Regions from separate parts of the Homo sapiens genome. Here region 1 is linked to region 2. A link means that fine-mapping ties the variant in region 2 to the expression of a gene that starts in the linked region. Tissue or cell type: whole blood. Region 2 holds a variant in brackets; the other region holds the start of a gene. All regions are shown on one strand. Distances are from middle to middle.

Region 1 (2,684 bases), 200 kb after region 2:
AACTTTTGAAGAATTCGCTGATTTCTGCAGATGTTGGAGTAAAGCCTAGATCCCCCAGTCCTGTGTTGAATGTGCGATTGTTCGAGATGACTGGTTAGTCTAGATTTCCTTTTCTTCTTCCTCTCTCTCTCTCTTTTCTCCGGCTCCCTTTCTTCATCCTTCCCTCCCTTCGTTTCTTCTGCCGCTACTGCTCTAAGAATTTGGTGCAATTGCTTTTAGGTATTCGCAGTGATTTTTGTTGTTTTTTAGATTTATACCACTGAGGACTGTGGCCACGAGAGGGCAGTAGAGGAAGCTTATCAGAATACTTGGACAGGAGTAAACTCGTGTGCGCTCTAATCGCGAGCAGGGACTACGCAGATCCTGCGAACTCGCTGGGGTCCAGCTTGCAGGCCGCTTCCGGAAAGCCGTGTCTAGAGGCTGCGGAGTTACTGAGACTGTGTGGCGAGGAATCAGTGGCCTTGAGGGCACCGAGACATTGTCATCCAGAATCCCGAAACCTCTCACCTTAGGTTATTAAAATAAGTTATCTTATTGCCACCCCTCTGATTACCCTGCCAGAAAGATTCTCTGAATTGGATATAGAAAGCTCTTCTCCCGTCCCCAATGCCCCCATGCAAGTCGGGACTTACCAGATGCCCAGGATCCCTATCAGGGCTGGAAGTTTGAGATTCAATTCAGAGCAAGGTTCATCTTCTCATTGCAATAATAATAATAACAACAACTTCAAGCCTTATTTGACAGCTTGTTGGCCTTTTTCTTTTTTTAATTTACAAGAAGAGGAAATTTGCTCCCACAAATTCCAAGACTCTAGTCTCAACCCTACCAGACAAGCCCCGTTCCTCCCCACTCACCCCTCACTCAAATTACAGATGAAGAGGGAGGTGTGCAGGATGTGTGCGGTGACAGGTGATGCGAATGGGGGGGATTCCCTGTCCCTACTGCCCTCACCCACTCTTCCTGTGTTCTGAGCTCCCCCCTAACCCCAACGCTAGACCTTCTATTCCCCCGGGGGCCAAGCCAGCTGGGCTCGCAAGGCCCGACTCGAATTCCCGGGCCCTGGCAGCATTTTCCTTGCCCCCTTGGCTACTTAAGGTGGCCGATGGGTCCGGGCTGAGCTGGGCGCAGGACAGGCAGCCGAGCGGCCTCCGGATGCCAAACCTGCTTCTCCTTTGTTGACAGCTTGCGGAGGAGGAAGTCCGCGCGGGCGGGGGAGGGGGCAGGGTGCTGGCGGTGGCGGGCGGTGCCAGCAGCGGGCGCGGCCCCAGCCCGGGCGGACGCGGCCGGCGGGGAGGGGGTTAACGCGCGCGGCCTCTATGATAATGAGCTGCATGGTGAAATAGGGAGGCCGGCGCTCAGGGCTCCTCCGCCGCCGCCGCCGCCGCCGCCGCCGCCGCCACCGCGGGAGCCAGAGCTGCCGGGAGGAGCGGCATCCGCGCCAGACTGGAGCGGGAGGGCGGCGGAGGGCAGTTGCTGGGAATTTTTCAGCCGAGAGGGCGAGCGATCCGGAGAGAGACCCCGAGAGCTTGGGAGCGGTAGGGCGTGCGAGCGCCGCAGCCAGCGGAGCAAACCTCGAAATAGATCTGGAAAGCCAGGCTCCCGGAGGAAATGGGACTGTGAACGAACCGGAGAGCAAGAAGGGAAGGAAGCGCCGGGATTGCTGATGTCAGAGGAGCCCGGAAAGTCGCGCTGGAAAAATCTGAAGACAGCCGGGGCTCTGCTTCTTCCTCAGGAGAGACACCGCCGGCCGCCCCCACACGCCCCCTCGGCGCCTCCGGGTGCCCCCTGAGAGCCGGCGACAGCGCCCAGCCGGGCTGCTGCGGGGCGACGGAGGACTGAGGGGCGCGCGGAGCGGAGACCGAGGAGCGACTTCAGGAATACAGATAAGTGTCTGGTGGCTTGACGTGGATTTTAATGAATTTGGACTCCATGTGGATTTGGTCGTCTCCCTGATTCCGAGCTGCGGGCAGGGAGAGGGGCCTCGCGCCGCCCTCAGCAGCCGGCGGCGGCCGAGGTAGACCGAGCGGGGACGGAAGGACAGACCGACGTCGCCGAGCTGGGTAAGCGGCGGCTGGGCCGGGCGCTCGGAGTCGGCAGCGCCCTCCGCCCTCTCCCCACAGGCGCGCACACCCGTGGCGGCTTCTCCCGCGCCCGCCTCTTTGGGGTCCCGGCCCCAGAAGACCCGGCTTGGCCGCGGCGGGCGAGTCCCCGCGTGGGCTCGGCCACTTTCGCGGGCTGGAGCGCGGCGTGCGCGCGATCGCAGGCTCACTGGAGCCGCTGCCTCCCGCCGAGGGCTTCCCGGCCGGCAGCCCGCCGGCTTCCCGAATGCGGGCTGAGGGCGGCAGCAGCGCTCCGCGGCGCGCCTCCACCGCGCACCTGCCGGCGCTCTGCGGCTTTGGGGAGCTCGGGGCGGCAAGGCTGTCCTGAGAGCTGGAGCCCAAAGAGGGCCTCGGTGGCACCAGCGAGACAGCCCAAAGCCACACTGGCCAGCGATCGATTTGGGGGCGTTCACTCCAGTGCCGGGGTCCCTGGTGGCCGCCGGCTCTCCCTTCCGATCGGGGACTGGAGATCAGGGGAATGGGAAAACATCATTTGCGCGGGTTCCATAAGGCTCAGGGAGAGATTCCTAGGCACTGAATGGGTCTAAGTGTTTCATCTCCCGGGGCTCCCTTTGCGGTGTATCG
Region 2 (2,684 bases):
TAAAATCTTACAAATCAAGAGAAGCAATGTCCCAAGACAAACAATATGACACCTAATAGATGTGTCTATTAACAGCCAGCCAATGTCCTCAGTCAATAATAATAATAATAATAATTAGCATGCCCAGATACTGTGTTACTGTTTAGCCCTTTATTCCCAGGGCTTTTTGTCTAGGGAAGGGCTCTGTCTCCGTCAGAGCTGGGGGCACATGCAAATCTATTTTCTGAGACTAGCTCTGTGGAGTATAGAGTGAGATTGTGAAATTCAAAACACACCTGGGAAATTCAGACAAGATCTCAATAATAAGGACTGTAATCAAGGAAGAAACCCTTAGTTAAGCAAATAATTTGCCTTGGGAGAAAAAGGCTGAACATGATGTTCTTCACACACAGGGACTTTAGCTGGCATTTCATCTTCAGTCCGAATAGTCCTTGCTGAACAAACCTCAAAAATGAAATATTTACACTATGCCTGCCACCAGTAGAAATGGTCTTCCAATCAGAGAAGCAAGCTGTGGGAGGTGAATGAATGTCTTGAATTCAAAAAAGATACAAAAAAAAAAAAAGAGAGAGAGAGAGAGAGAGAAAGGACAAGTTTAAAATTAAAGAAAAGTGTTATCCAAGGGTAAAGAAATTTGACCTGAGTTCTCCCCAAGTGAGGATAACATGAATGGTAATGAGTCCTGTCTTATCTCTGCAGTTACGGGGATGATTTGCAGACATCAGATTTTGTGATGTTACAGACATGGTTCCCAACTTCGAAAAGCAAGAAAAAAAGTGGATGCAAAATAATATACTTGCATTGGACAAACAATAGCCAGATAACTGTATATCACAGTGAGATATAATGTCAGGTTTAGAATCAGATAAATTGCAAATAACAATGGAGAAACAACTGAACCTTGAGGACTCTCAGCAGATAAACCAGATGAAGTGGATAAAGACTCGCTGTGTGGAGAAGGCAGGGCAGCCCACGCAGAAAGGTGGGAGGCAAGTAGACAGAGGAGGTGGTAGAGCGGTGATGGAGTGTGAGCATCTAGATAAAAAGCTGCAGTCAGCTTCCCAAAAATCAGGGAAAATAATA[G/A]CCGGAAATAATAAAGTAGAATGGTAGCAGTGTCAACTGTGATAAGCAGATAATTTGTTACTCTGGACAGCCTGGGGCCCCTTTCCAGAGACAGGCAGAAGTCCAAGTTCCTAGACTTTCAGCCTGTGCAATCAAGAAGGAAAGAAGTAATGCAAAGGGCAGCAAGAACCACAGAGAGGGGGATTTCAGGATCATGGCAGACGGGAGGGAGGACTAGATTGCAGCTGGGAACAGAGCAGCATGCGGGGGCTTGCACTGTGAATTTTAGCTCCGGATCAACAGCAAGAACAAACCAGCAATCCTGAGAGGACCCACAGACCCTCTGAAGGAAGCACACTGCTACTGCAGGACCCGGGAGACACCTCAAATATACTCTGGGAGGCGGAAAGCGTCGGCAAGTTTTCAAGCCCGTCTAGCCCTCTGCCTGGAAACAGACTCAGGGCTGTTTTGGTGGGGCACCGTGGGAGGTAAGATCAGCCCTTTGGTTTGTGTGGGAGCTGGGTGAGGCCTGTGACTGCCACTTCCCTGACTGCCCTTCCCTGACAACCTGCATGACTCAGCAGAGACAGCCATAATCCTCCTAGGTACACAACTCCAGTGACCTGGGAATCTTACCCTATCTGCCACAGCAGCTGCAGCAAAACCAGCCCAAGGAGAGTCTGAACTCAGACACACCTAGCCTCGCCCCCACCTGATGGTCCTTCCCTACTCACCCAGGTAGTGGAAGACAAAGGGCATATAATCTTGGGAGTTCTAGGGCCCCACCCATTGCCAGTCCCTCTCCACACTGCTACAGCTAATGCTTTCTGGAAAGTGACACCTCCTGTCAGGAGGCCGACCAGCACAAAAATGGAGCATTATTTTTTGCACAGAGTCCAATGCACCCTCTGCCACCTCCACCAGAACAGGTGCTGGTATCCAAGGCTGAGAGACCCACAGACGGTTCATATCACAGGACTCCGTGCAGACAACCTCTGGTACCAGCCTGGAACTGGGTAGACTTGCTGGGTGGCTAGACCCAGAAGAGAGACAACAATCACTTCAGTTCAGCTCACAGGAAGCCACATCCACAGGAAAAGGGGGAGAGTACTAAATCAAGGGAACACCCTGTTAAGGGAGGAGACCACCCCTCATATTGTGTTATGCCCAATTTCTGCCTCCAAAGAAAGAAGTAAAAACTAAAAGGCAGAAATGAAATCCACAGGCAGACAGCCCAGCGCCATGCCCTGGACCTGGTAGTTAAAGATTGACGCCTGACCTAATTGGTTATGTTATCTATAGATTACAGACATTGTATGGAAAAGCATTGTGAAAATCCCTGTCCTGTTCTGTTCCATTCTAATTACCAGTGCATGCAGCCCCCAGTCATGTACCCCCTGCTTGCTCAATCGATCACGACCCTCTCACGCAGACCCCCTTAGAGTTATAAGTCCTTAAAAGGGACAAGAATTGCTCACTTGGGAAGCTCGGTTTTTGGAGTCCTGAGTCTTGCCGAAGCTCCCGGCTAAATAAAGCCCTTCCTTCTTTAACTCCATGTCTGAGGGGTTTTGTCTGTGGATTGTCCTGCTATGCTGTGGGACAAAAGAATCTGAACAACATCC

Evidence for each region. PIP is the estimated chance that this variant, and not a neighbour inherited with it, causes the effect.
Region 1: PLXNA2 starts here. The variant in region 2 is fine-mapped to the expression of PLXNA2 in whole blood (TOPMed, PIP above 0.99).

The regions. Positions count from the first base shown.
Region 1 is chr1:208,243,019-208,245,702 of GRCh38, reverse strand. PLXNA2 (plexin A2) reads left to right here and starts at 1,319. Exons shown (of 32, transcript NM_025179.4): 1 at 1,319-2,060. RefSeq lists a silencer at 1,202-1,261 and enhancers at 1,780-2,279, 2,280-2,684.
Region 2 is chr1:208,444,897-208,447,580 of GRCh38, reverse strand. No RefSeq gene overlaps it. Among named protein-coding and RNA genes, the nearest start is that of LINC01735, 170 kb to the left of the region's middle. RefSeq lists enhancers at 1,530-2,030, 1,190-2,389. The variant G/A (reference allele first, on the strand shown) is at 1,084.